4 linked regions of the Homo sapiens genome follow. The protein of the gene in region 1 interacts with the protein of each later gene in a biochemical or structural test. Each region holds a gene or a part of one and is shown on either strand. Other genes may lie near its edges.

Evidence for each region.
Region 2: the proteins of RAD23B (region 1) and PAQR3 form a complex in vitro, tested with the Homo sapiens proteins (one study listed by BioGRID).
Region 3: the proteins of RAD23B (region 1) and UBXN6 are reported together in a solved structure, tested with the Homo sapiens proteins (one study listed by BioGRID).
Region 4: the proteins of RAD23B (region 1) and POLI form a complex in vitro, tested with the Homo sapiens proteins (one study listed by BioGRID).

What each region holds. Positions count from the first base shown.
Region 1 is NC_000009.12:107,300,122-107,307,457, forward strand, and holds part of RAD23B (UV excision repair protein RAD23 homolog B), read left to right. Parts: intron 1-19; coding exon 20-101; intron 102-1,913; coding exon 1,914-1,993; intron 1,994-6,257; coding exon 6,258-6,526; intron 6,527-7,336. UniProt on the Homo sapiens protein: Multiubiquitin chain receptor involved in modulation of proteasomal degradation. Binds to polyubiquitin chains.
Region 2 is NC_000004.12:78,929,326-78,936,661, forward strand, and holds part of PAQR3 (progestin and adipoQ receptor family member 3), read right to left. Parts: intron 5,959-7,336; coding exon 5,796-5,958; intron 3,335-5,795; exon of another isoform or gene 3,261-3,334; intron 1,001-3,260; coding exon 845-1,000; intron 1-844. UniProt on the Homo sapiens protein: Golgi-scaffold protein which modulates its interactors acitivies by anchoring them to the Golgi apparatus. Functions as a spatial regulator of RAF1 kinase by sequestrating it to the Golgi apparatus.
Region 3 is NC_000019.10:4,454,663-4,462,713, reverse strand, and holds the start of UBXN6 (UBX domain-containing protein 6), read left to right. Parts: upstream 1-4,919; 5' UTR 4,920-5,016; coding exon 5,017-5,099; intron 5,100-7,412; exon of another isoform or gene 7,413-7,493; intron 7,494-8,051. UniProt on the Homo sapiens protein: May negatively regulate the ATPase activity of VCP, an ATP-driven segregase that associates with different cofactors to control a wide variety of cellular processes.
Region 4 is NC_000018.10:54,279,363-54,286,698, forward strand, and holds part of POLI (DNA polymerase iota isoform a (long)), read left to right. Parts: intron 1-1,304; coding exon 1,305-1,541; intron 1,542-3,474; coding exon 3,475-3,653; intron 3,654-4,380; exon of another isoform or gene 4,381-4,453; intron 4,454-4,559; coding exon 4,560-4,651; intron 4,652-7,336. UniProt on the Homo sapiens protein: Error-prone DNA polymerase specifically involved in DNA repair. Plays an important role in translesion synthesis, where the normal high-fidelity DNA polymerases cannot proceed and DNA synthesis stalls. Favors Hoogsteen base-pairing in the active site.

The sequences.
Region 1 (7,336 bases):
ATCTTTATTTTTCCTATAGGTGAAAGCACTGAAAGAGAAGATTGAATCTGAAAAGGGGAAAGATGCCTTTCCAGTAGCAGGTCAAAAATTAATTTATGCAGGTATGAATTAAATATTAAAATTAACATGCCATGTCTTGATATTCTTTTAGTTTTAGAAATGTTATCTTATATATTGTAGTATATTCAAATTGTCAGAAAAATGATTGTACAAATAAAAGCAGTGAAAGAGCAGTCATTTGAATCTAATATTAATATTCAATCTTCTCTTTATTCACATTTGCCCTGTGTATTTTTCCATCAAATGGTATTAGTTTTGTTTTATCTTTTGTAAGCATCGTGTAACTGGCTTTTGTTTTTTTAATCAAACGGAGCTTTTTTTTTTAAATTGAATTGAAACCATTTATACTGATTGTGTTATTATTAGTATGCTTGGAATCATTCCTGTAAAATTATTTTAACCAAAACTAACTGAAGAGTACAGAAAAAACACATCACACAGACACCTACAGGAAGAAAAAAAATTAATATTCAGATTATGTAAAGAATTCTTAGAAATCAGTAAGGAAAGGATGACCAATAAAGCAACAAAGGATAAGAGTAGGAATTATACATTTGACTAGCCTCACTAATAACCAGGAAAATGTATATTAAAAATACATTTGATATCCAAATTTTTAGAGAAAATGCTTTCATTGTAGATGTTAGTAAGGTGGGTGTTTGATCACCCATGGATTCTTCTCTTTTTCTGAATAGTGTTTCCTAAAGTGAGACAGCCTGGAGGAAATGCTAACCTGGTGATTCAGTCCCATTATTTTTATAGGTCAGAATTCAGAAGCCTAAAGAAGCGGACATAAAATTCAAATTTCCAGTTTCTTGTTTTGGCCTGTTTTCTCATTCCTATCCATATTCCTTTCTGACTTAATGTTAGCAGCTTTTGATTCAATAGCTTTTTAAAGGTGGAAAACTAAATTCATGTAGCAAGAAACACTAGAGAGTCCTAGCTACCTAATAGTGACCTTCAGCACGACCACAGTTTTGTGTACTTCGTGCATTTCTAAGTTCTGTAGCATCTTGCCCTTTCTTGTGTATCATGTCGTTTTCTGAAGTACTTTTAGTATCTTGCTTTGATAGTGTTAGAACATTTCTGATTTATCAGATATCAGTATTTTGGGGAGCAGGAAATTTGTTTCTCTCCCTTTCTTCATATCATAAAAGAATATAGGTTATTTTCCAGAGGACCCCTGTGCAATCGGAGTATTGAATTTTCTTTATCTTCATGATCTCCTCCTTTTCAGGGCCTCTTTCATATTTCCTTGCCCAGTAAGTCTTTTATATAATCAATACATTTGTAAAAATTGATTGTCATTCTATATACACTATATAAGTTTGACATCTTTTAGTCAAATGCTTATGCTTTTTAGTTTTATTTGTTTGAGAGAGGGTCTTGCTCTGTCACCCAAGCTGGAGTGCAGTGGTGTGATTATACTCGCTGTATCCTTGAACTCCTGAGCTCAGGTGATCCTCCTGCCTCAGCCTCCCAAGTAGCTAGGACCATAGGCATGTGCCACAATGCCTGGCTAATTTTGAATTTTTTTTTTTCATAAACAGGGTCTTGCTATGTTGGCCATGCTGGTTTCAAACTCCTGGCCTCAAGCTATATTTCCTCCTCAGCCTACCAAAGTGTTGGGATTACAGGTGTGAGCCACCATGCCCTGCCACTTAGGAGTTGTTTTATTTTTATCTTGATTGATTGGTTTTTCTTTGGGAAAAGTATTAACTGATAGAATTTATGTTGGTGATTCATATTTTAATATTTCTGAAATATTCATATTTCGAGTAGAAAGTTGTTTTAACTGAAGTGTAAGAGAAAGATTATGCCTTAAATGATTTTTTTTTCTCTTAATGTATTAGGCAAAATCCTCAATGATGATACTGCTCTCAAAGAATATAAAATTGATGAGAAAAACTTTGTGGTGGTTATGGTGACCAAAGTAAGTTTCAACCTCATTCTGTATATCTTTATGCATGTAGGTCTTTTTAAAAATGATGATCACAAGTCCACACAATGGACACAGTTTATACACATCCATAGTGGTGTACACTTAACTACTATGAAAGGTTTTTAAGAATTTACCTTAAGTGAAACATAAAGTTATTAATGTTTTACATTAATTACACATTAAACTATAATATAGTTTTAATAAAATTTTATGTAAATTAAAACAATTGAAAAATAAAATGTCATGTTAAAATTATTTTTGCTACAGTAGTGAAATCATTATATAATTCTTTTAAAATGTCTTTATAAGTGGAATAAATGTTTATTCTGTAGTTTTTGTAAGCTTGCCTTAAATAGACCTGCTAAATTACGTACTAGTCCTAACAGATTCCTCAAGACAGAAAAGGCATGAAAGCTTATTATTACAGTGATAGTTCTTAGTGAAAGAATATGTTTTTAGAAACTAAAAAAAGGGAAAAGATAACTAAAGAAATGATGGAATGATTTTTATGAGGAAGTTTTTTTTGTTTTTGTTTTGTTTTTTTTTTTTTGAGACGGAGTCTCGCTCTGTTGCCCAGGCTGGAGCGCAGTGACGCTGTCTTGGCTCACTACAAGCTCTGTCTCCCGGGTTCATGCCATTCTCCTGCCTCAGCCTCCCTAGTAGCTGGGACTACAGGCGCATGCCACCACGCCCGGCTAATTTTTTTGTATTTTTAGTAGAGACAGGGTTTCACCGTGTTAGCCAGGATGGTCTCGATTTCCTGACCTCGTGATCCGCCCGCCTCGGCCTCCCAAAGTGCTGGGATTACAGGCGTGAGCCACCGCGCCCAGCCTGGAAGTTTTAAACAGATACTTTTTTGTGATTTAGTAGGCTGGAATGTATTTGGAACAATTTATAAAATTAAATTTTTTTTAAAGCAGAGAATGAACATGGATTTTTTTAAGAGACTATTTATATACTTGTTTATTTAAAGATATATAATGCAGTGTAGAATTAAGAGACAAATGGAGAAGTGGTACTCATGACATTCATTTTTAGGATTGGATTGTCATAATCTGAGAAAGAACAGTGTTACTTGTAGCACTGAAAATGAGTTTAAATCACTAATTGAAACCACTTCATCAAAGGCCAAAAGTGGATTAAATGTGGGTTTTTTCTCAAAGTCACAAAATAGTTAATAGTAATAGAAAATAGAGTCGAAGAAATAAATTCTAATTACCACATGCTTTTGTACTGGGAGCAAGCAGCTAAATAGTTTACAAGTGTTGAACATTTTTTAATTCATTAAGAACCATGTTGATTTTGCTATACTTAAGAACTTAAGTCATTATATGTTAAGTTTAAAAACAAGCAGAATCGTGAGGAAACCTTGTATCATCTAGGTTTTTTTATTCAACTGTGGTAAAATATAACAAACTTCCAGTTTAATCATTTTAAGTGTACAGTTCAATAACATTATAGTTACATTGTTTTGCAGCTATCACCATCATATAAGTGGAATCCTATGGTATTTGTCTTTTTGTGACTGGCTTATTTCACTTAGCATAATGTCATTGAGGTTCATCTGTCTATGTTATAGCTTGTGCCAGAATTTGCTGAACTTTTAAGACTGAATACTATCCTATTTTCCTATCTAGTTTTAGCATACATAGTACATAATGGGAAATGTGATAGCCACACATTTAAATATGTTTTGTTACTGGTCTTAGTTTCTTTTAATATTACAGTGATCCTGACTGTTTAGAACACAAGAATTAAGCAGAAAAAGTCTCAATAGGTGCGTGTGTTTGAGGAATAGATACTTGAAGCCTATCATTATATTGCATACAGTCCTTTTGTTTTTCCTTAAAGTCTTTTATTCCTAATATTACATAGGATTCTAATGATATTTATGATTGTTTTATTTGAAGTTAATAGAGGACAACTATGAAAAGGGAGGGAATGCTGCTACAGTAAGGCATTATGGAAGCACTGAGAAATGACCTTATTAATACAAAGAAGGGAAAGGAAAAAGCTATTAAGATCAAAAGCAAGAATAAAAACTAAAAAGCAGAGAAGGGCTTGGTACTGTTTAGAATAAAGTATAAGTAGCTGTTCTTGGCAGTAGGAACCTTGAAGGGAAGTTACATTGCAATATTATTTTGATAACAATTAAGGAAAATATTAAATGAGTATACCACTTTTAAAAATACATTTTTATCTAGATTGGTTATTATAAAGTTTTGGTGCTTAAGACTCTAAATTTTCACCTTTGTGAAGCTCCAGTTTATCCAGAATAACTGAAGATCCAGAATGATCTCAGGATTTCAGCTCATTTTAGTTTTAGAACAGTAATAATCTGCAGAATATTATATTGGCTGTTAAGAAAGTTAAGCTAAATAGGAAAAGAAGGGAGTAATGCTACTAGTATTTTTTAAAAACCTATCACCTTTCACTAACCTTTTTCCTAGTGTCTTCTTTATTAGTTCAAATCAAAAAGACAAGGCAGCTCATTGGTTTTAGAGTTTGTTTATGCCTGTGGCAAATTATGTTGAATTTAAGCCTTGTCTTCCACTAAAACAGCTACCTTTTGTCCTTGGGAAAGTTATGAACTAAACAGGTAGCGAGCATTGAGAGGCCTTAGGAGAAGACTAAAAATCATGTATGATTTTTACACATGTACAGTTGACCCTTGAACACCACTGAGCTTAGGAGTGCTGGCCTCTCCCCTACAGTCAGAAATCTGCATATACCTTTTGACTTGCCCAAAACTTACCTACTAATAGCCTACTCTTGACCAGAAGCCTTACTGATAACGTAAACAGTGGATTAATACATGTTTTATATGTTACATGTATGATATACTGTATTAAAGTAAGCTAGAGAAACTATTAAGAAAATCATGGCCAGGTGTGGTGGCTGATGCCTGTAATCCCATCGCCTTGGGAGGCCAAGGTGGGCGGATCGCTTGAGCTCAGGTGTTGGAGACCTGTCTGGGTAACATGGCGAAACCTTGTCTCTACAAAAAAAAAAAATACAAAAATTTAGCAGGGAGTGGTAGTGTGAGCCCGTAGTCCCAGCTACCTGGTGTTGGGGGCGGGGGCAGTGGCTGAGGCAGGAGCCTTGGGAGGTTGAGGCTGCAGTGAGCTGTGATCATACCACTGCACTCCAGTCTGGGCGATAGAGTGAGAACCTCTCTCAAAAAGAAACAAAAGAAAATCACGAGAGAGAATATTTTTAGTGTTCATTAAGTGTAAGTGGATCATCATAAAGGTCTTCATCCTTGTCTTCACACTGAATAGGCTGAGAAAGAGAAAGGGTTGGTATTGCGGTCTCAAGGTGGCAGAGATGGAGGAGGTAGAAGGAGAGGCAGGCACACTCAGTGTAACTTATATTGAAAAAAATTATCATGTAAGTGGACCCAGTGCAGTTCAAACCCTTGTTGTTCAAGGGTCAACTAATTGTTTTTTTGCTCTGTGGGAAGCTTTATGGCTCTATTTCCAGTTCAGAAAGTGCTGAGCGTGTGGAGGTAACTTAATTTGGCCTTTATTTTTCTGCTTAATTACATATATGTCTGAAAGTATTGTGAACCTTTTTGTACTTGGATCTGTTGATTTGTAGTCAATTTTGGGATTTTCCTCCCTCTTCTAAAAATACAGTACAACAGAATATTTGACATGTTTATAAATAAACATTTATACTGCCATTTCAAGAACATTATTTTGGGCTGGATGTAGTAGTTTATGCCTGTAATCCTAGCGCTTTGGGAGCCCGTGGTGGGAGGATTGCTTCAGGCCCGGAGTTCAAGACCAGCCTGGGCAAGGTAGCAAGACCCTGTCTTTAAAATTAAAGAAAATTATTTTATTAATGCTTTTAAGTGGTATTAGGTACCTTAAAGTTACAACTTAGGTACATAAAGTTTTTTTGGGAAAATGATACGGTTTATATCTATATATATATATATATATATCTATATATCTATATATATTTCAAATTTTTTATTTTATATTAACTTGATATGAAGATGGAAATTGTTGGGTAAAATTAATTGTGGTTGATAGTTAAGATTAACATACGCTGTCATGAGCTTTGAAAGAGTAACCATGAGTCAGATTGTTAATATTGATCATTTATTGTGTCATTTTACAAAATTATTTTCAAGTTATAGGTTGTTATTAGTGCTATGTTTGTGGCATCCTGTAACGGTACAGTCTAATTAGAGATCAGGCAGTATGTAGTATTTTATTGTAATTATTTTGTCTTTTAATGTGTTTAGCCCAAAGCAGTGTCCACACCAGCACCAGCTACAACTCAGCAGTCAGCTCCTGCCAGCACTACAGCAGTTACTTCCTCCACCACCACAACTGTGGCTCAGGCTCCAACCCCTGTCCCTGCCTTGGCCCCCACTTCCACACCTGCATCCATCACTCCAGCATCAGCGACAGCATCTTCTGAACCTGCACCTGCTAGTGCAGCTAAACAAGAGAAGCCTGCAGAAAAGCCAGCAGAGACACCAGTGGCTACTAGCCCAACAGCAACTGACAGGTAGGAACTGGATTCTAGGACATTCTATCTCAAAATCCGTGTTTAACAGGAACTTCATGCATTTATTTTGATTATTGTTTTGATCAAACCGACTATATCTATTACGTTAAGCTTTTTTTAAATGTTTGACTAAAACATATGCTGCGTCTGTTTTGATAGCTTACTAAGGAGAATATAAGTACAAATTTTCATAATCAGATTTCTGTACTCTGTTGATTTGGGCAGGGTGGGGGGCAGTGGAAAGGAGAAAGCAGGTGAAAGTCATTTTTTTTTTTTTGAGTAGAAACGTTAGGAAATACAAATAACCAAAATGAATAAGGATTACATCATGACATTGCCACCCTGATCATCATTTGTACTTGATCTGTATTCTTTGTGGTCATTGTCATATATATCATAAGCATCCTTCCATGTTAGTAAATCTTTCCCGTAGTTATATAGCATTGTGTTTGGTTCTGACATTTGTTAGCTCTTGTAACCTGAACCTATGGACTATTTCAGTTTTTCACTGTTGTATCTGTATCTTTGTGAACTTGTGAGAAATTCAGGCTTCTGCCTGTGTGGATCTTTAGGGGAAAAAAAAGGAAAAGAGTGTTGAGATATTTGAGGAGCAAGAAATAATTTCTTGTGGGAAGTTGACAGCAGAGACACCTCAACTAAGTGGCTGCTTAGGCAGTTAGGATTATTGAGCAGTTTAAGACAAGACTTTTGTTTTTCTCCCCAGACGATCAGGTAAAATGACCAAAGCAAATGCTTAAGTCAGAGTTCTCTTGGTTGGAAATCATACAGCACAATTCCTTGATCTAAGAG
Region 2 (7,336 bases), on another chromosome or scaffold:
TAGAAAAACAGGAAGAAAACAAAGTAGGGTCGAAGGGGACTTTCTGAAAGGGAGAACTTGAGATGTACTGAAACCATGGGAACATTGAATTTGTCTTCTTGGCTGGAACATGAGGTGATGAGTTAAGGGTTCTACTCCGTAAGGTTTGGTTGGCCAATATTTTTAGGTCAGGTGCTGTATTATCTGATTACAGTGTTGCAAATGCTGCTTTGCACAAGGCAAAAACTGACTTTTGTGTGAACTTAGTGACAGAAAGCAGAGTTGATCCAGAATTCAGAAAAGACACATCTCACATTTGTTAAAGACACTGACTCCTATCTGGTCTGTCTTACAAGCCTACCCCCAAACATAAGACTGAAGACAGGAAAACATATTTTACAGAAGAATATGGGCTAATAAATTCAGATATATTTTCCTGTATTTTTTTTCACTGAGAGGAGAAAAAAGAAATGGTAAGCAGTAACCAACTTCATAATTTTAACAAGTGTTAATTTTAACTTCAATTCTATAAACACACAAATAAAAGATATATAATGTGCATATCTGAGGAACCACGCAGCCATATAGATTTAGTGAAAACATTAATAATTTAATGTCTACATTAAGTTTCAGAAAATAACTGTATATATATTTTCCAATAGAAAATTAGTAAAGTAAGTATGGAACTGATAACAGATGTTAGAGATGACAGGGCCATTCTGAAAAATAAGTTTATGCTTATACGAGACTCTTCTATTTAGTCTATAAGTTAATTATGTACTTATTCAGAAATTCAAAAGAACCAAGGCAAGAAAACCCAAGACCAATATGAAAGGTCGAATGTAAAATGTTTTCATCTACTTACGTTATTACAATAAAATGCGTAAAATACTCCTGAGACATAGCAGCCCAGTATTCCAATAGAAATTCCTGCATAATCTAATGCCATCCATCTTCGACATGTTTTTTCTGACCGATGGCAGGAAAAAAGATGATAGCCCACAGAGCAAAGCATACAGACCTGTGAAAAATAAAAACAAATTAACAAAGTGACTAAAGAAACTAAAGCAACTTATGCATGATATTCAGGGAAGTAGTTAAGAGGCTAGGCTTTCAATTCAAACATTTATGGGCTTGGATTCTAGCTCTGTGCCTTACATGGCTACTGTAGAGCTCACTCTACATGTAGAGCCATGTAGAGCCATGAGGGAAAGCCTCAGTTCCCTCATGGGTAAAATGTAGATAATAATAATGAAGGAGAAAATTTAAAATAACTATATTACAAAATGAAAATTATAAATAAATAGCACAGTAATGGGAAAGTTATACAATGCAAATGTTTTAAAACTATCATCTGAGGCTTGTTTTGATCCATGAATTAATTTGTTTTTAAAGAGTATTTACTATAGAAGCAATATATAGCCTTAAAAAAATCAAAGAACATAAATATAAGCCCCTCTTACTCAATCTATTCCCCAGAGGTGGCCAGTGATAACATTTTTTATGTGTCTTTCCAGATATTTTCAATACATATGTCAAACACCTGTGATATATTAGTCTATACACATGCACACATTATATATATATATATATATATATATACACACACATTTTAAAATTAAATGAAATCACACTATGCATTCTGTTCCACAATTGGCTTTTTTTCAGTTAAGAATGTTCATGTCTGTATGAGATTCATTGTATAGAGTTTACTTTTAATTTCTAAGGTAAACACAGTTTTATTGCCTTCAAGAAAAAACAGGCTGGTGTAGTAGTGGCTCATGCCTGTAATCCCAGCACTTTGGGAGGCCATGGTGGGAGGATCTCTTGAGCGCAGGAGTTCGAGACCAGCCTGGGCAACATAGGGAGACCTCATTTCTTAAAAAAAAAAAAAAAAAAAAAAAAAAATTGGGCATGGCGGCATGCACCTGTGGTCCCAGCTACTTGGGAGGCTAAGGCAGGAGGATTACTTGAGCTTGGGAGATCGAGGCTGCAGTGAGCCGTGACTGCCCCACTATACCCCAGCCTGGGTGACAGAGCTGTGACTGCCCCACTATACTCCAGCCTAGGTGACAGAGTGAGATCCTGTCTCAAAAAATAATAATAATAATTTAAAAAACAGTGATGACTTGCTAACTTTATATGGTTGCCAAACTGAGAGTAAAGCTAATCTGATTCAATCAGCTGTTCTGATAATTGATAAGGTTCTATGGCAGAATGCCTTTCAGCTATTAAGTACCTGCTGTATGTCATACATTGGAGGTGATACAGAATCACTGAACAAACAGTACAGTAACAAATCCTACTGTACTTCAGTGCACAGCATAATTGGAAAAGGTGGGAGGATATTGACTCTGTGGAGGTACATGTGCATTTGGAGGGTGGGACTGGTGGGAAGAAAAGTATCAGAGAAGGGCTGTTCACCTGAGGCAGATTTTAAAAGTTGGGCTGGCATTCACCAAGGACATAAAAAAAGGTGTGCACATATTTATGGCTGGGGGCAGGGATTAAGGAAAAGCATCATATTCTTTATAATATGATTATGACATTTCCTATACATTAATGGGTTTTAACTTCAATATTATGGGTATGATAAGATACTCCTGAAGATTTTAAGTGCCCCCCAACAGAGGTGTGGACTAGAAGGGCTGAAACAGGAGGTTACAGAAATAGCCCTGGAGAGCAAACACTGAGACAGTGACAGTGGGGTGGAGGCAATGGGACAAATAAACAGTATAAAGTAGTTACAAATGATAAACATTTTGTAAGCTATTGCTAAGGCAGTAACATGGTCATCTAGCTATTAATATTTTATATTCTGGTCATTAAACAAATCTAGTTACTATAGACTCAATATCAGTATTCAATAACAATGTACTTTGCCACAACTTCATTGCTTCATCAATTGTCTAAAATCCTTAATAGTCTATAGCTTTTTGGTTACTAAGCAACCAATCAGTAACTAATTCTAAGTTAGTTATTTAAACGTAACTCAAAGAAGTTTGGTTATTTGTTTTCTCAGATTATCCTTGAGATTAAGCACCATAAATCAGGAGAACATAAAAGTGTATATTTCTCATTGATGGGGAAAGATCCCATTGCCACAATGTTGAATGACACAAGGGCAGGTCGCAAAATAGCAAGCAGAGATGACTGTAGCTTGGAAGTAGGTAGACAGGTAAGGGAGCAGGCAGGTAGGCAGGTGCAAGGTAGCTATGCATACACAAACATACGCATTTGGGTTAAACTCATTGTTTAACGCAAATGTCCAATGTGGTTACCTCTGAAAAGTGGAATTTCAGGTGACGTTTTCTTCCACAAACTTCTGTTTGCCTAAATTTCTACATGATTATATCTTGTAGTAATAATTAGAAACAAACATAAAGCTCATTTCATTGTGAAAAAGAAAATAAAAAGAGGAAAAAAAGAAACTATGGTATCCAAGGGAAAAGTAAAATAGCATTAACAGAAAACCCCAGATTTTAAAGTTAACCCATACCTAGTATGCCCTGTTTAAGAAGGAATATGTTATTCCTAGAGTTTAAAAATGGACTGAAAGATAATCTGGCAAATTGGGTATGTTTCAGTTATAATGGAAAGTTTCCTTCTATGGAGTACCTCACTCCATCAAGGTAGACAGATAATTACAGTGTTACATTCACATCGAAACTCCTTGGCATGATAACAAAATACCTCATGATTTGATCCCTGCCAATCTCTTCAGCCTTATCTTTCTCCATTCTCCTAGGTTTCAACCACAAAAACTAGTACCTGCAAGTCCAGAAAGTGCTAAGAAAGTGTGTCTTGCTTCTTTTTTCCTGCTTAAATGCCCTGCCTCACTGTCTCTTCTGCACACCTACGAGTGGCTTGACCTTTATACCAGGTTGGTTCTGTTCAGCACTGTTTTACCGATGCCTTGTATAGTGTCTGGATGTATATAGGACACATTCAACAAATATTTGTTAACTGAATGTAAATGGATCAAATCAAGGCATTATTGTATTCTAACATTCTTCTCCAAAATACAAATACCCTGGGAAGGTTCAAAGCCCCTCAATTACATTCTATTGTTCAGAATGTACTCTATTTATCTGGTTGCGAGGAAAGCACTAAAGCATACAGAAGCATAGGAGTGAGAAAAATGTTATGTCTTTTAATATTAAATGTAAATCAATATTAATAAATATATCTATGGTTTACTATACTGTCCACTGACCCTAAGAATCTGGAAAACTCAAGTGAACAAGTTATAATTTGATAAGAAGTGGTCTTTTCAAGTAGGGAAGATGTGCTCATCTGTCTTTAGTAAGTTGTACAGCATGTATTGTAACAATGATCATTGCACTAGCAAGTAGGAGAACAGGATTTTACTGCCCTGCTGAATAATCCTGGGCAAGTCACTGTAATATTTTGGGTCTGTTTCTTTATTGGAAATTGTTGTAATTATTTAATCCTTTTTAGTTTTGCAATGTATTGTTTTCTTAGGTCAATACTGAAATTGATACATATTCTCTGAACTAACATCAGCTGTGGCAGGTGGTGAAGGCATAAAGAATAGGCCTAGGGATGGAGGAAAAGAGCAGGGATTCTCAAAGTAGATAATATGCATATAACTAACAAGAATAGAAGCCAGTTTTTACTTAATGATTATTAATAGCATGTTAATCTATACTAAGATGCACCTAAAAATTTAAAAAGAAATTGATTCATTTCCATTATAAAATTGGTTATGGATTTCAAGGGATATTTTGGCTGTAATCAGGGCAAAAATTAAACCTCAGAAAGAGTTTATTTTTAAAGAATATTTGAAGGAAAAATAATTTTCTAATAACAAAAATAGATTATGCTTTCCCTCAAAGAAAATTAAAATATTATTCCAAAAATTGGAATTAATAAAAAAGGGGAAGAGAGATTTGTTTTGCTGTGTTTCTTGGCCATTGAAGTCCAAAGTTTAAACTTGAGTAAAATGATGACTCTCTGAAATAAAATGATACATGATGAAAGCGACATTTGTGCAGCTGAGTTATGAGATTCACCTCTCAAACTCAGCAGCAACAGGCTAACTGCAGGGAATAGCTACTCTGTGTCTGTCATGAGAAAGGGGGATAATAAGTTTTTCATTTTTGTGTTTTTTTATGTTCTCTGAAGCAGAAAAAGTTGTTTTAAATGTCAACAGAACTACAGTCCACATTTGTTTTCTGATTCAAAATTATCTGTTTGAAATCTAATAAATGTTAACTTTTAAAGACATTTTTACAGATTCTTGAAAAATGCCAGTGCTATGGAACTAACAAATACAGGAGGTAGAGAGGAAAAGAAACAACGTATTTGAAGCCAGGCCAGTGGGTTCAAAATAAATTAACATTAAAGCAACAGAGTAAAAAATCAATACCAGCAAAACAGGACAGTAAAATATAGTATGGAAATAACAAATACAAAAATCACAAACACAAACAGGAGGAAAGAGATGAGAAATCTTCCCAAACAAGTTTTAAGTAGGCACTAGTGTTGTACTTCAGCCAGATAATAGAATGCAATCAAAGATTCCTATTTTTTTAATTAATCTTAAAGCAGAGGTGCCCCAAAAGAAGAGGAAAGAAACAAATTCTTCTCAATCTTTGTAATTTAATGGATTTCAAACATACTCTCATAAGAACACATCGTTTGGTGTTTATGTTATGAAAATCAATAAGCTGACCAACATGCCATTCCGGGGCTCTTTAAAGCAAGTGGTAGGTCTGAGGTAAGGTCACCTGACCAAGACTGCCTGTCAAAAAGTTCTCTTTACCAACAGCAGTATTTGTGAAATGACTTACCTGGAAGCAGAAAAGACAAATAGAACAAATTACAAAATCTTCTCTGGACGCACTTGCTGAAGGTAACACAGATGTCATGTCATATATTCCCAGGGTGAAGAAGAGAAAGAAACCCAGCAAATGACTCCAGATGTTTACTGTCTCATTAGATAAAATAAACAAACTGGAAAATAAACACACATGCAACTGAGATTCACATTGGCCAACTTACTGTCACGTTCAAAGGTTAGGGACAATTTTGAGGAGTTACCTAATACTTGCTCCTTTAAGCTCTTACCCCACCTGTACCTTTCTAAATTTGATATATTATCTAATTAAATTATTCTAAGTTTTTCTACATCGCCACCAAGTCTGGGACCACAGTTTTTTGGGTGCTCACCTCTATTATCATACTTACCATTTCCTTCTCTGTATTAAGAGATTTACATACAAATTCCATCTCATCTTCCAGCCTATCAATTCCCTAATGGTCAGTACCATTCATCTTTATGACACTACTGTTCACAATGCCTTGCTCAGATTAGTCTATAGACTAAAGGTCTCCAGAAATGAACGTGCAGAGGAAATCTGGATGTTAACTAGCACACTCTATCAATAATACGTATCTGAAAACCTGCTCAGTGCAAGGTTAGGCATCATCTTAAAATACTTTCCTAGAGCTCATTAAATACAAATGCAAAATTAAATGGATTTAAGAGAAGCAAAATAAATATATATTGATCCATTGGAAAGGTTCTTTAAGATAGGCATGCCAGAACAACTTTGCCGTGGATGTTTTAAAACTAGTCTAGTTTCCAGGTGGCATAAGTTTCTCCTTTTCACAAACAACTGGACTTAACTTTTAATATGGGTACTACGTGCTCTCTTTCAAAATGCCCTGGGCTAACTGGACTTGGCAGCACAGGTTGCTAGAGCGTGTACCACCCTGAGTCAAGAGGCTCACTGTCCCCACCCTACACAAGTCACTTAACCTCTCCCGGCTTCAGTTTCTTCATCTATACAGTAATGGAGCTTCATTAGATGCTGCTGCAACTTTCTTCTAGCTCCTTTCTTACTTTTGTGAAATGGTTCTCCAGATGTAGATAGGACTCATCTGATTATTTACTGAAAGGTGACATCATGACTAAAGATTAAAATACTCTTGCATTTGTCTGCAAAATCTCGTATTTTTGCTTAAATTTAGGTTTTTGGTCTTCACTGATTCAGAAATCCTTGACATAATGACATTGACATATAACTCTAAATTTGTAGCAGTCACTGTGGTTCTCAGGTTCTCATTTTTACAAGAAATGGAATTTCCTATTTGCTTTGCTTCTCAACTTCATTTCTTGTAACAATGAAAGTGAGAACCATAGTGACTGCTACAAATTTAGTTATACGTCAACGCTTACTAGTAAGGATTTCTGAATCAGTGAAGGCCAAATACATGATGTATATAGCAAGGTGTCAAAACTATCAAATGATCATCAAAAATAAAGTGAATCTTGGATCATGAATTTCAGGCTTTATCATGTACAAGCATCAAGTGTAAAGACTACTTA
Region 3 (8,051 bases), on another chromosome or scaffold:
TGAGACGGAGTCTTGCTCTGTCGCCCAAGCTGGAGTGCAGTGGCGCGATCTCAGCTCACTGCAAGCGCCACCTCCCAGGTTCACGCTATTCTCCTGCCTCAGCCTCCCAAGTAGCTGGGACTACAGGCACCCACCACCACACCTGGCTAATTTTTTGTATTTTTAGTAGAGACGGGGTTACACCATGTTAGCCAGGATGGTCTCGATCTCCTCCTGCCTCAGCCTCCCAAGCAGCTGAAGCTGCAGGTGCGCACCACCATGCCTCACTAATTTTTGGTTTGTTTGTTTTTTGAGACAGAGTCTCACAAACCAGAATGCAGTGGCATGATCTCAGCTCACTGCAACCTCTGCCTCCCAGGTTCAAGCAATTCTCATGCCTCAGCCTCCCAAGTAGCTGGGATTACAGGGAGGCACAACCAGCACTGATTTTTTTTTTTTTTTTTTTTGGTAGAGACAAGGGTTCGCCATGTTGCCCAGGGTGTTATTTTTATTTTATTTATTATTATTATTATTTTTTGAGATGGAGGCTTGCTCTGTTGCCCAGGCTGGAGTGCAGTGGCATGATCTTGGCTCACTGTGACCTCTGCCTCCCGGGTTCAAGCGATTCTCTGCCTCAGCCTCCTGAGTAGCTGGGATTACAGGTGCTGCCACCACCCCTAGCTAATTTTTGTATTTTATTTTTAGCAGAGACAAGGTTTCATCATGTTGGCCAGGCTGGTCTTGAACTCCTGACCTTGTGATCCACCCACCTCAGACTCCCAAAGTACTGGGATTATAGGGGTGAGCCACTGTGCCTGGCCTGTTATTTTTATTTTTTAGTAGAAACAAGGTCTCACTATGTTACCCATCCTGGTCTTGAACATCAGGGCTCAAGCAATCCTCCTCCCTCGGCCCCCCAGTGTTCTGGGATTACAGGCGTGAGCCACTGCGCAAGATTGAACAATTTTTAAAAAATTACCCGGAGGCCGGGTGCAGTGGCTCACGCCTGTAATCCCAGCACTTTGGGAGGCTGAAACAGGCGGATCACCTGAGGTCAGGAGTTCAAGACCAGCCTGACCAACATGGAGAAACCCTGTGTCTACTAAAAATACAAAAAAGTAGCCAGGCATGGTGGCGGGTGCCTGTAATCTCAACTACTCGGGAGGCTGAGGCAGGAGAATCCGAGAGATGGAGGTTGTGGTGAGCCGAGATCGCACCATTGCACTACAGCCTGGGCAACAAGAGCGAAATTCCTTCTCAAAAAAAAAAAAAAAAAAAAAATTAGCTGAGTGTGGTGGCACATGCCTGCAGTCCCAGCTTCTTGGGAAGCTGAGTGGGGAGGACTGCTTGAGCTCAGAAGTTCTAGGCTGCAGTGAGCCATGATTGTGCCACTGCACTCCAGCGTGGGGAAGAGAGTAAGACCCTGTCTAAAAAAAAAAAGAAAGCTGGGCATGGTGGCTCATGCCTGTAATCCCAGCACTTTGGGAGGCCGAGGCGGGCGGATCACGGGGTCAGGAGATCGAGACCATCTTGGCTAACACGGTGAAACCCCGTCTCTACTAAAAATACAAAAAATTAGCCGGGTGTGGTGGCGGGCGCCTGTAGTCCCAGCTAGTCGGGAGGCTGAGGCAGGAGAATGGTGTGAACCTGGGAGGTGGAGCTTGCAGTGAGCCAAGATTGTGCCACTGCACTGCAGCCTGGGCAACAGAGCGAGACTCCATCTCAAAAAAAAAAAAAAGAAAAGAAAAGAAAAGAAAAATAAATGTTGTCCTCCCAAAGTGCTGGAATTACTGGTGTGAGCCACCGACCGCTCCTGGCAGAAATGTTAAATTATTTAATCTCATAACCTCATCCGACATGAGGAAGATAGTCCAGGAGAGCGTCATGGTGGAAGAGGATTGAGTTAGGCAGAGGAAGAGAAGTCCCTTCTGGTAAAGGAGAATGCCTAGGCAAAGGCCCAGAGGTGAGCTGGAAATACTTCCAGGTAACTGAGGCAGAGGTGGAAAGGTGGGTGATAACAAGAAACGGGGTTTCTGAAACCCTCAGAATACTTAGAACCTGAAATAGAAATTTATTAGGGCCTATTAATGTTAGGATCTCCTTAGACCAGGCTGAGGAACCCCATAGGATTTTATTCTTGGAGAAGTGGGATGGGTCTCTGCCACTTTCCAGCTGTGTGACTTTGGCCCAGTGTTGTACCTTTATTTGAGTTATAGGGTATACAATTCCTTATTCACAACAATGAGCTGTAATTTTCTTTTCTTTTCTTTTTGAGACGGAGTCTTGCTCTGTTGCCAAGCTGGATTGCAGTGGCGCAGTCTCGGCTCACTGCAACCTCTGCTTCCCAAGTTCAGGTGATTCTCCTGCCTTAGCCTCCTGAGTAGCTGGGATTACAGGCATGAGCCACCGTGCCCGGCATACTGAGAACTTTCTAATCACATGATCACCCCTACAATCTATAGAGAGTGTTATTCTTATCCCCATTTCATAGATAGGAGACTGGAGATCAGAAAGATTGAAGTTTGGGTTGCACTGTATTCTTCTTTTATTTATTTATTTTTTTACTTTATTTATTTATTTTTGAGACAGAGTCTCGCTCTGTCGCCCAGGCTGGAGTGCAGTGGTGCAATCTCAGCTCACTGCAACCTCTGTCTCCTGCGTTCAAGTGATTCTGCTGCCTCAGCTTCTCAAGTAGCTGGGATTACTGGCACACACCACCACACCCGGCTGATTTTTGTATTTTTAATAGAGACGGGGTTTTGCTATGTTGGCCAGGTCGGTCTTGAACTTCTGACCTTAAGTGATCCACCCGCCTTGACCTCCCAAAGTGCTGGGATTACAGGTGTGAGCCACCGCACCTGGCCCAATTCTTTTCCTTTTTTTTTTTTTTTTGAAACGGAGTCTTGCTCTGTTGCCCAGGCTGGAGCACAGTGGCATGATCTCGGCTCACTGTAAGCTCTGCCTCCTGGGTTCACGCCATTCTCCTGCCTCAGCCTCCCAAGTAGCTGGGACTACAGGCGCCCGCCACCAAGGCTGGCTAATTTTTTTAAAAATTATTTTCAGTAAAGACAGGGTTTCACCGTATTAGCCGGGATGGTCTCAATCTCCTGACCTCGTGATCCACCCGCCTCGGCCTTCCAAAGGGCTGGGATTACAGGCATGAGCCACCGTGCCTGGCCTTTTTTTCTTTTTTTAATAAGACAGGGTCTGGCTCTGTTGCCCAGGCTGGAGTGCAGTGGCGTGATCCTAGCTTACTGCAGCCTCCAATTCCTGGGCTAAAGCAATCCTCCCACCTTGGCCTCCCAAAATGTTGGGACTGCAGGCCTGAGCCACCCGTCCAACCCATGATATTTCAATTTCAGTCTTGGGGTGGGCTGTTTCCTCACCTGGAGGCTTCTCCTCCATCAGTCTCTGTGTATCTCATTCCAACTCCTTCTTTTTTGAGGCAGAGTCTCCCTCTGTTGCCCAGGCTGAAGTGCAATGGCGAGATCTCGGCTCACTGCAACCTCCACCTGCCGGGTTCAAGCGATTCTCCTGCCTCAGCCTCCCGAGTAGCTGGGATTACCGGTGCCCATAGAGACAGGCTTTCACCATGTTGGCCAGGCTGGTCTCAAACTCCTGACCTCAAGTGATCCGCCGGCCTCGGCCTCCCAAAGTGCTGGGATTAGAGGCATGAGCCACCACGTCTGACCCCCAACTCCCATTTTTTGAGGCTTGTTTTAACTGTCACTTTGTGTATCTTCTTTGTGGATTGCACAGACCAAAGTACGCCACTATTAACTGGTGTCCACCAAAGTGGATCCCCAATCCCCAGGTCCCAATTGGGTGCATTGGGTGCATCCTCTTTTTTTTTTTTTTTTTTTTTTTTTGAGACGGAGTCTCGCTCTGTCGCCCAGGCTGGAGTGCAGTGGTGAGATCTCGGCTCACTGCAAGCTCCGCCTCGCGGGTTCACGCCATTCTCCTGCCTCAGCCTCCCGAGTAGCTGTGAGTACAGACGCCTGCCACCATGCCCGGCTAATTTTTTGTATTTTTAGTAGAGACGGGGTATCACCGTGTTAGCCAGGATGGTCTCGATCTCCTGACCTTGTGATCCGCCCGCTTCGGCCTCCCAAAGTGCTGGGATTACAGGCATGAGCCACCGCGCCCGGCCCAGGTGCATCCTCTTAAACAGCTCCTACCTAGGGTACGTGGTGATGGTGGCGGGGGGGTGCTTCAGGCACCAAAACAGGCCAGATCGTGGGGGCCTCCAATACCCAACATTGAATTGGGATTTTATCACGTAAGCTCTGGGGAGACAGAGAAGGTTGGAATTTTTTTTGTTTTGCTTGAGACAGGGTCTCTCTCTGTCGCCCAGGCTGGAATGCAGTGGCTTGATCACAGCTCACTGCAGCCTCGACCTCTTGGGTTCAAGCGATCCTCCCGCCTCTGCCTCCCAAGTAGCTGAGAGGCGCGCGCCACCACCCTCGGCTAATTTATTTTATTTTATTTTTTTTTTTTTTATAGAGACGAGGTTTTGCCATGTTGCCAGGCTGGTCTCCAACTTCTGGGATCAAGCAATCCTTCCGCTTGAGCCTCCAAAGTGCTGTGATTGCAGGCGTGAGCCACCGCGCCTAGTTTAGGTTGAGCAGCGAAAGGGATAGGGCCCAGTGCTTTCTCTGCGAGGTTCAGTTGGCCTGTCCCTGTCCTATCACCGTTTGTCACCGTTTGGGGAGCGCCACGGAATGCCCTGTCTCCAATCGAGAGGTGCACTCGTCGCCCTGGCAACGGAGTCCGGAAGAACCACAGAGACGCGGCTCCAGCGTACAGAGCGGCCGCCCTGGGCCAGCAAGGCACCGAGCGCTAGAGAGGCACGTCTAGTCGATTGTCACGTGGCAGGCCAGGGGAAGGCGGGACTTCCGGCGGCGAGGTAAATTTTTTTTTTTTTTTTTTTTTTTTTTTTAATTTTCTTCCGGTGGCTGGTCTCCGGCGGCCCCGTCCCCGACTGGGCCCCGTGCCCCCCCGCCCCCGCGGCCCCCCGCCGCCGGGCCAGCCGCCACCATGAAGAAATTCTTTCAGGAGTTCAAGGCCGACATCAAGTTCAAGAGCGCGGGACCCGGTCAGAAGCTCAAAGAGTCCGTGGGGTGCGTGAGGAACGCAGGGGCTTGAGGCCCTGCGGGGCGGGGACGGCCGGGGAGAGAGATCTGGGGCCTTGGGCGGCTCGGGAGATCGGAGAGGATGAGGGGCTGGGAGCGGCACGCGAGGGTCAGGGGAGGGGGAGAGGCGCCGGGGGCGGACGAAGTCGGGCCGAGGGTGGGCGTCAGGGGGAGGGGAGAGAGATCTGGGGGCGGGGCAGGAGGGGGCGGGTATGACCCGGGGGCGCGGCGGGGGAGGCGAGGGGAGGGGAACTAGCGCAGGGGGCGGGGCGGGAGGGGAGGTCTCGGGGGCGGGGCCGCAGGAGGGTCCGATGCAGTGGCGGGGGATTAGGGCGACGGGGCTGTAGGCAGTTGGGGGTCAGTGGAACGACCTTTGGGGAAAAACGGGATCATGAGTCCTGAGCCGGGTGGTGAGGGAGAGCTCTGTCTGGGGACCCGGCTGGCCGAAGAGGCCGGGATGATTTGGGGCAATCTAGGTGACCATGGATGGGAGCTGAGCTTGGAGGAGGACGCACAGCTGTGGGGTGGGGTGGTGAAGAGTTGTTTTGAGGTATCCATGGGAAGAGGGGTTCTGGATTTGGTATCTGGAGCACGTGGGAGGCTGATGGGAGACTAGAAAGAGTCTGGAAGGCCAGGGAGGCCGGGGTGGGCAGCGTCGTCAGTGACCTGGGATGTCCTGGCGAATTGAGAGGGAGGGGCTGAGGAAGGTGTGTGAGGAGAGTGGAGGTGAGGGATTCTGACAGATGGACTCTTACCCGGGAGGGGCCTGAGAGGAGAAGACGGGTGAGACAGACGCGTCTTAGCAGGCTGGGAGAAAGAGCTTCTCTGCGAGGCTTCTCTGCCACGTCACTGTGCCAAGTGGATTATGGAAGTGGGAGAGGAGGGGAAAGGAGATAGATGCCGGGCAGGCTTCCGGATTGTCTAGGGAGGACTTGGAGAGAAGGGCCTGAGCAGGGCTGAGCCAGCTGGGAGGGCCGGGGAAGAAGTGGAGCTAGGGAAGGTGCAAGGCTGAGGGCTGTTGGGTTGAGAAAAGGGAAACTGGAGAGCTGGGGCCGCTGCAGGGAGCTGGCTGGCCAGAGGGTGGTGGGGACTGATGGAGAGGGACTGAGGAAGTCAGCCAGGCAGCCAGGACACGGGTCTGTAAGCAATAGTGGAAGGGATTGTGAGGGAGTGGGGGCTGGGAGAGGCAGGGAGGTGGCAGGAAGTGGGGGTCAGGAATCACGGGGCAGTGGGGTGGTGATGGAGGTAGGGGCATAGTGAGGACGTCAGGGTTCCTGGGGGAGAGCAGGAGAGCAAAGGCTGAGTGAGGGAGGGAGAGGGGTCAGGGAGAGAAGGGGGCAAATCGGGGGAGCCCTTCATTGATTCAACCAATAGTGGGTGGGGGGTGCTGGGGCCACTGGGACTGGGCATGATAGGAAGGATGCAGGGTATCGGGGTGATGGCTGGATCAGCCCAGAGCCTGGGCGGAGAGGGGAAGGTTGGAGGGGAAGGTTGGGAAAGGAAGCGGTGCGGAGGTCCCTTGTGGAGCGAGACTGCATATCCAGGGTGTGTGGGGTGGGTGGGCACCAAGTCCTGTTTTAGGCTGCAGTGGTGGACAGGAGAAGGCCTCTGCTGTCCCAGGGCTCACCTTCTAGAGGGAGCCGATGGACAAATAAACCAACAGACCTTGGATGAGCGCTCAGGCGATGAGTGCTTGGATGAGTGCCCAGGGCCTCCAAGGAGGGTGAGCAGGGGCCGTCAGGTGGTTTGGGAAGGCCTCTCCCAGGACACAGTGAGACTCAGCTGTGGGGAAATCTGCCCCTCCTTCTCTCCCTGCGGCAGCTCTAGCCCTTTCCAGACCCCCATCCTCCTCCCACTCCCCCGGAGAACATTCTGGGCAGAAGGTGCAGACAGTGCAGGGGCCTGCAGTGGGGAGCAGCTGGGGTGTGGGAAGAACTGCGGGGAGCCCAGGGGAGACAGGCCACGGGAGGGCAGTGGGCCAGGCTGGGAAGGGCTCTCTGGCCAAGGGAAGCTTTAGGATTTTGCAGTGGGAGGGCGTTGTGCAGTGGAGTGATGCTGACGCTCCCTGGCTGAGGTTCCAGAAGGGTCCCTGTGGCTGCCCAGGGGGGCAGGGTCCATGGCTGGTTGGGGTGAGGTGCCCTGGGAAATGGCATTTTGTTGGAAAGACCCAGATATCGGATGAGGCCGGGGTGGGTCTTCATGAGTCATCTCCTCTTCCACCCAAGATGCTCAGCTGTGGGAGGACTAGATAGGCAGGGGTGGGACGAGGAGGGAGGGCTGCCCGGGTATGTAAGCAGAGCCAGAGGAGTATAGGGCTTGAACTGAGAGCCTGGCCTCCCAGAAGGTTTTAATAGACCTACGGCACAGAAATTGACACAGCCCGTAAGTTCATGGGAGGGGCCTGAGAGGAGACGGGTGAGACAGACGCGTCCGAGCAGGTTGGGAGAAAGGGCTTCTCTGCGAGGCTTCTCTGCCAGGTCACTGTGCCACGTGGGTTACGGAACTCTCCTTGGTGTAGGGCTCAACAGGGTGGAGCCACGAGTCCATGAGCTCTTCGTACTTGCACAGCCCTAGGCCTGGCATGGAGTGGCCAGGGCGAGGCTGGTTCTGCTGTCCGCTCTCCCCAGGGTCCCGCCACGAGGGTGGCGTGGCATGGGGCACATCGCCCGGACTTCCTGTCCCTCTTGGGTTTAGGAATGGGATGGTGAGGCCTCCCTGGCAGCTTGTTAGGAGGAGTAAACCAAGCGAGCCGACCAGCTCCCAGCAGGGTCCTGGCACACAGTAGGTGCTCAGCAAACGAAGCTGTGACCTGAGGGTGGAGAGTCTTATGGCAGGGAGGGAGGGAGGATGTGACACCCCTTGAGTCTCCTCAATTCCTGAGGATGCGGGCTGGGTGCTGTGGCTCATGCCTATAATCCCAGCAGTTTGGGAGGCCACGGT
Region 4 (7,336 bases), on another chromosome or scaffold:
CTCCCGACTAGCTGGGACTACAGGCATGTGCCACTACACCCGGCTAATTTTTTTATTTTTAGTAGAGACGGGGTTTCACCATGTTGGCCAGGCTGGTCTTGAACTCCTAATCTCAGATGATCCGCTTGCCTTGGCCTCCCAAAGTGCTGGGATTATAGGCATGAGCCACTACTCCTGGCCCATTATGTCCTTTCTTGTAGATAAACCAGTTGTTATCGTTTTGCCACATTTGCTTTCTCTTGTTCTCTCTATGGATTGCTTGGTTGGTTGATGAGCTATTTGGAAGTAAATTGCAGACATCCTGACATTTCATCTCTAAATACTTTTAGCGTTAGTCTCTTTGAGGTTAGGATGGTTTCATGTCATTCCAACACTGTTTTACACCTAAAGCAAATTTATTTTTATATAATTTTCTTACACTTTTCATAAAAGAGCTCTAAAACTGTGTACAGGTCAGAGATTGTTTCTAGCAGCATATACTGCTAGTGCGTGGTTAAGATTTAGATCTTTAAAGTATAATGTTAGCTTTCTTGTTATATAATAATACTTCTATGCCTACTTACGGGTAAATATGAGTAAAAGTTTTGCCAATGTCAGTAGGAATTTTTTTATGAGATCAGTTTTCACAATGTGTTAATTATTAAGCACTCCCACTACACAGTCACTATCACAGGCCCTTGGAATTTGCTTATTGAATTTGTTTACAGTATTCCTATGAAGCATGAAAGAGATTAGTCAAGTGGATAACAGGGTGGCAGTGATCTCTTAGTCCATTTAGTGTTGCTTTAACAGAATACCTGAGACTGGGTAATTTATAAAGAAAAAAAGGTTTATTTGGTTCATGATTCTTGTGGCTGGAAAAGTCAAGGTTAGGCCTCTGGTGAGGGCCTCAGGCTGTTTCCACTCATGGTGGAAGGCAAAAGGGAGCCAGTGTGTGCAGAGATCACATGGTGAGAGAGGAAGCAAGGGCTGGGGGAGGTGCCAGGCTCTTTTAACAACCAGCTGTCTTTGGAACTAATACAGTCAGAAACTTACCCCTGAGGGAGGGCTTTAATCTATTCATGAGGGATCCACCCCTGTGATCCCAACACCTCCCATTTGACCCCACCTCCAACACTGGGGATCAAATTACAACATGAGGTTTGGAGGGGACAAATATCACAACCATACCAGGTGATGATGGTGGTGGTTGTGGTGGTGGTGGTTGTTGGATATAGACTAAGCCCTCTACCTTTTAAAAATTATTTTGTGAAAAAGAAAAAGGTTTTTCTTGTGACTTTGAATGACATTTGTTGTTTTTAAAGCTATAAACCTGCTTGACGTCTTGCACATCAGACTACTTGTTGGATCTCAGATTGCAGCAGAGATGCGGGAAGCCATGTATAATCAGTTGGGGCTCACTGGCTGTGCTGGAGTGGCTTCTAATAAACTGTTGGCAAAATTAGTTTCTGGTGTCTTTAAACCAAATCAACAAACAGTCTTATTACCTGAAAGTTGTCAACATCTTATTCATAGTTTGAATCACATAAAGGAAATACCTGGTAAGACAAATATATTTGAAAAGTACATATACGTCTTATTTTATTTCTTTTAATTTAAAAAATTATAGATACAATGTAATTAATTCTTAGGTAGAGTTGTCTGTGAGTTTGTGTGCATGTGTGTGTGTGTGTATACTTGGTTCCTGGAAAAAACTAAGAAAAACTGTAATGTTTTCTCAAGCAAATTTGGATTAAGAAATATGTGAAGGTACTTTTCTTATTTTATCTACTTTTGTATGGTTAGAATATGGTCATGAAAGTTATAGCCTAGAAACATATGGTCCTTTATTTCCAGTCCCTGGGTCATACTCTTATACTGTACATTGCCTCTAGAGAGGGGAGTTCGTCTTTTACTAACTCTTTTGGGATTACATATAAAATATTAAGGCTACAATGGACTTTCCAAAACATCTAGGCCAAGGTCCTCATTTTAAAGATTAGGAAACTGATTTCCATGAGGAGTTCGGTGACCTATTTAGGTCATGGGGCAAGTTTGTATCTTTGAAGATTAAATACCCAAGTTTTTATAGGCCATCAATATGTTGAACTACATTTCTGTGGTATTGCTAGGGAATAAGATGTTATAAAAGAGTTCTGTGGAAGTGAATTTCTAATACCACTGAAACTTAGATGTCATACTTCACATTTTTAACTGATACTTGCGTGATTCCAAAATGTATTATACACTGCCTTGCCTTCCTTAGTATAGTATAACTATAATTTGAAGTTTTTTGGATGACTTTGGTAGTGCATTCTGAAGAACAATGTCAGGTTGTAATAAACTGAGGACTATATACTGGTGCAAAACATTCTTACTTGGCTTTACTTTCGAGTTCTTGTATCTTTTTTTTTTTTTTTTAACAGGCTTTCTCCTTTCTCACTTATTGCCAAATTGCCAACCTTCTTTTTTTTCTGCTGTGAAAAATCTGTCACTCTACTTTAATAGTTCCCCCTACATAGCCATCTCCTCCAACTTACTGCTTTTACTGTGCAAGAAAACCAGATAACTGTGGAATTACTGTTTTTGAATGAAAAGAATAAGGAGACATTAAATAGCCTGTTTTCTCTTGTGAATAAAGTATGACCGAATTTTAGTGCAAGAACTTTGTGACAGTTTTGCTAGCAAGATTTTTTGTTTGTTTGCTTTCTGGCTCATAGTTGTATTCTGGATGGTAAATGTTAGATATGACTTATGGATAAATGTGTGGTGGTGCGTATAGGAATCAGTTAGGTTACCTAATATGTACACTTAATTTATTTTAATTGCTCTAGTGGCAGCCTTTTTGTATATTAATAATAATCATGATTTCTGAATATTTCTGGAATATTACATAACAGGTGGTAAAATTTTTGTTTTAGTAAGACAGCATTTATTGGCTGTCTCTGTATTCATTTTATTTTACTGCATTTTGTGAGGACTTCAAAGAGGTGCATATAATTCAGGAGCCCTGAGTGGAAGAACAGCAACCTAGTTTGCAATGGGGTTTGATCTTTGCAAAATACAGTAGTCCCCCATTATCTGCAGTTTCACTTTTCACAGTTTCTATTACCTGCAGTCAACTGTGGTCTGAAAATAATAAGATATTTTGAGAGAGAGAGGCAGAGACCACATTCACATAACTTGTATATTGTATATTGTTATAGTTCTGTTTTATTATTATTGTTAATCTCTTACTGTGCCTAATTTATAAATTAAACTTTATCATAGGTATATATGTAATGGGAAAAACAGTACTGTATATATAGGGTTTGATACTGTCCATGGTTTCAGGCATCCACTGAAGGTCTTAGAATGTATCCCCTGTGGATAAGGGGGGACTACTGTATAAATTATAGAACTTAAAGATAAGATTGATATATTTATAATATTTTAATTAGCTTTGTTTTAAGGAGAAAAGCTATTTTAACATTGTATGCATTTCTTTTTATTTAGGTATTGGCTATAAAACTGCCAAATGTCTTGAAGCACTGGGTATCAATAGTGTGCGTGATCTCCAAACCTTTTCACCCAAAATTTTAGAAAAAGAATTAGGAATTTCAGTTGCTCAGCGTATCCAAAAGCTCAGTTTTGGAGAGGATAACTCCCCTGTGATACTCTCAGGACCACCTCAGGTACATGATGATACTTATTTTAATTAAGTACTGGTTATCACATTATTTGAGATAAAGATTTCTAGTTTTAGTACCATGTTCTTACTATTCTAGTTTGCTTAGTATGTGATCCCTTTCCTATTAGAAGGCTGATTTATTATTAATAGATTGGATTAATAAGTATTCTTAAATGGAATCTTAAGCATTGATATTTTGATATCTTAAGTTAGCTACTATGATTGAAGACAGTGCAACTTAATTTTAATAGCCTATAATGCATATATGAGGCAAAATATTTTAATCTGTTAAAAATCTTGTTTTCAGAGTAGTCCAGTGATTTAGCAAATGGGAAAGGTATAATCACCCAGTTAACATTGACTGATTTTTTTGCTATGGGACAAGCACTTTACTGAGTGCTTTAAATATGTTAGTCCATTTAATCTTCACAACAAAGCATCAAGGTAGGTAGTACTGTTGTTTGTCCATTCCTTCTTACTTCTCTTCTTTCCTTCCTTCCTTCCATTCTCTCTCTCTCAAGATGAGGATACCGTACTTTAGAAAGGTTAAATAACTTGTCCAAGGATAAACTTAGATTCAAGTCCTAGGTGATTAAGAACTCTTGCCATAATCATACAATAAAGCTTGGAGTTGGTACTAGAGCTTTAGAGTTTTCATAACTTTGAATTATTTTATATTAACTGTTTTATATTAACTGTTAATACAGTAATATTTTATATTAACTTTCTAGTGAGTACAATAGCTTGCAGATAAAAAACTGTTAATATAAAAGTGAACTAAATGGCTCAAACTAAGGACAAGAGGTAAGTTAGTGAAGAATGTATTGAATATTTATTTGACTGTACACTGATAATAATTAGATATAGTTATTTGAGTTTGTGCTAATCCTTATTTATGCTTCTTTGATAGTCCTTTAGTGAAGAAGATTCATTTAAAAAATGTTCATCTGAAGTTGAAGCTAAAAATAAGATTGAAGAACTACTTGCTAGTCTTTTAAACAGGTGATTTTCAATCCATTTTGCCAAGTCATCCTATGTATTCATTCTATATACGGTATGTGGAAAGAATATTTGATGTTCCATCTTGGAACTGACAGATTATCTGGAGACTAAACAATGTAAAAATAATTTATCATGGGATTTCTCTGCTTTATAAACTGTTGTAAAGATGGTAATAGGGGGTCTTACCTAAATTGAATTCATTGGTCTTAATTCTGTTAACACTGTGGTTATGCTATGGATCTAAAGCTGCAGATAGTTACCTAAAGGGGTTTTATGGATATTTCTAACATTTCTAGACTTATTCTGGTCTTCAGGTGAGAAGAAGAAGTTTTAATTTTTCCCTGTGGCAATTGCAAAGCCTCTGCCCTCAACCTAATAGTTAGTTGCATTTCATTAAGTTAGTACCATGCTAAATACAAATACATGCGAAATACAAAACCCGTGAAATTAACCATTTATCTGTGCCTCTGCTAATAGTTACTTGCATTTCATTAAGAAGAAAAAAATGCAAAGAGGAATAATACTGTCATAATTCTAAAACTCCTGATACAGGAACAACTATATAAATTTGTGATTGTTGAGGATAGGAAATTATTAAAGTAACAGTGATGGAAGAAGCAGAAGAACCCTTGTATCTCTTTTGCCTCAGACTGTAAAATAAAATGGAGTCGAAGGAAAGAATGGCTAGCTGGCGCTGTGTGTGAGTAGGGTGAGTGACTGCAGGTGTGTGCAGGGTTTCTGATCTGTATGTAAAGAGTATCAACTGGGGTTATAAATATATGAGTAGTACAAGATAAACTGAAAAGGAAATTTAATTTTGTGGTGCTCCTTGTCATTATACATGTATTTCTCAATATTCCATATTCCACAGATGAGTATTATCTGTTTTCGTCCCATTTCTTTGTTTCTCCTCTTCTTGTTAGAAATTTCTCAAATTGTGGTTTCAGGGCTCTAACAGTTTAGAGTAGGTGTGCTTCTCTAATGATTCTAGGAGGACTAACTGTATTTAGAGAAAATGGTTTTTGGTTGGTTCTAAGTCTGAGAAAACTGAAGAAGTGAAATTTCCTCCAACTTTGCTGTCGTGTGCAATGTGGCACTCAAATGTCTTGAGCAGAGCCATGCAGCTCATTGTTGGCTGCATGCAGCTGGGGCTGGCTGTATGACTGGCCTCCCGTGATATGACTCAGGCTGGGCCTGCGAGTATGCTAGTGAAACTGGGTCATTTGCTTCAGCTAAATAGAAGACTACCCTGAAATGCCTAACCTTTGGAGACAGTTCTTCACATAGAAAAACCACAAGAAGTATAAGTTTTACAGGTTCTCTTATTTGAAGAGTCAACCCAGAAGTGAGACCAGGTGCTCTAAACCTGTGACATACAAAACCTGTGAAATTAACCATTTGTCTGTATCTCTGCTTCCCGGCTCCTTTTCTCCCACACCACGGGCCCTTATTTCAGTGACTGAATTATAACACCATCTAAGTGACTTGCAAAAAAAAAAATTACAGGAGTGTGTGTGTGTGTGTGTGTGTGTGTGTGTGTGTATTTGTGTATAATTAGTTTTGTTTTCTCTAGAGTATGTTATGATTAATACTATAGGTATGTAAGAAATGTAAAACCGTATTATTTTTAATCCATCCTCTAGGCACTAGTTTAAGATTGCTTACGATACAGCCTTTTTCTAATGTGTCTTAATTAGCATATCATACTCTTTGAATTGCATAATTAATATAACACGTTTAACTGGAAGATATTTAAACTAGTAACCATTTAAGGTATTTTATCCTAGTTAAGCAGCCATCGAGAAGTTTTGTCACAAAGCAGTAAGAGATAGAAAAAATTATTTACTACAGAACTATTTAATTTTTTATGTTTTTGCGATAGGGTCTTGCTCTGTCACCCAGGCTGGATGGCAGTAGTGCAGTTAGGGCTCACTGCAGCCTCAGCCTCCTGGGCTCAAGCAATCCTCCCACCTCAACCGCCAGAATAGCTGGGAAGGCACCTGCCATCAAGCCTAGCTAATTTTTAAATTTTTGTAGATGAGGTCTTGCTATGTTGCCCAGGCTGGTCTTGAACTCCTGGGCTCAAGTGATCCTCCCACCTCAACTTCCCAAAGTGTTGGGATTACAGGTACGAGGCACCGTGCCTGGCCCAGAACTATTTTTTTCAGATCAGAATCTTCAAGTTGAGTGTGTTTAACAATGTGCAATACTTGCATTTTATGTTTGAGATTTGGTTTTATATGCATTGCCATGTGTATAAAAAGGGAAATGTTATCCTTTAATGACATTTTTTCCAGTACTACTTAAGTGAATTTGTCATATCACTAAAACCTTTGTTTCAACACCAAAACCAAGACATTTGCATGAAACTCTTCTAAAAAATGCATGTACTCATATTGTATATTAATTATATACTAAATATAGTATATGCTCTTTTAAGATATTGCTCTAATAAGCTATCATATAATGGTAATAGTGATTACTCTTTAACAAAAGTAATGTCATTTTGTAAAAAAAAATCTTTTTTTTGGTAATCTCGTAAGAAAAAAGTTTGAAAAAAGTTCTTTTGTTATTTTTCACTTATTTGCTTTTGTCAGTGAATGATTCAGTTTCTTAAATTTCCTGCTGATTTTAATTTGTTGCCTTTTGGTTAGGTGTGTTGGCTTACGTCTGTAATCCCAGCAT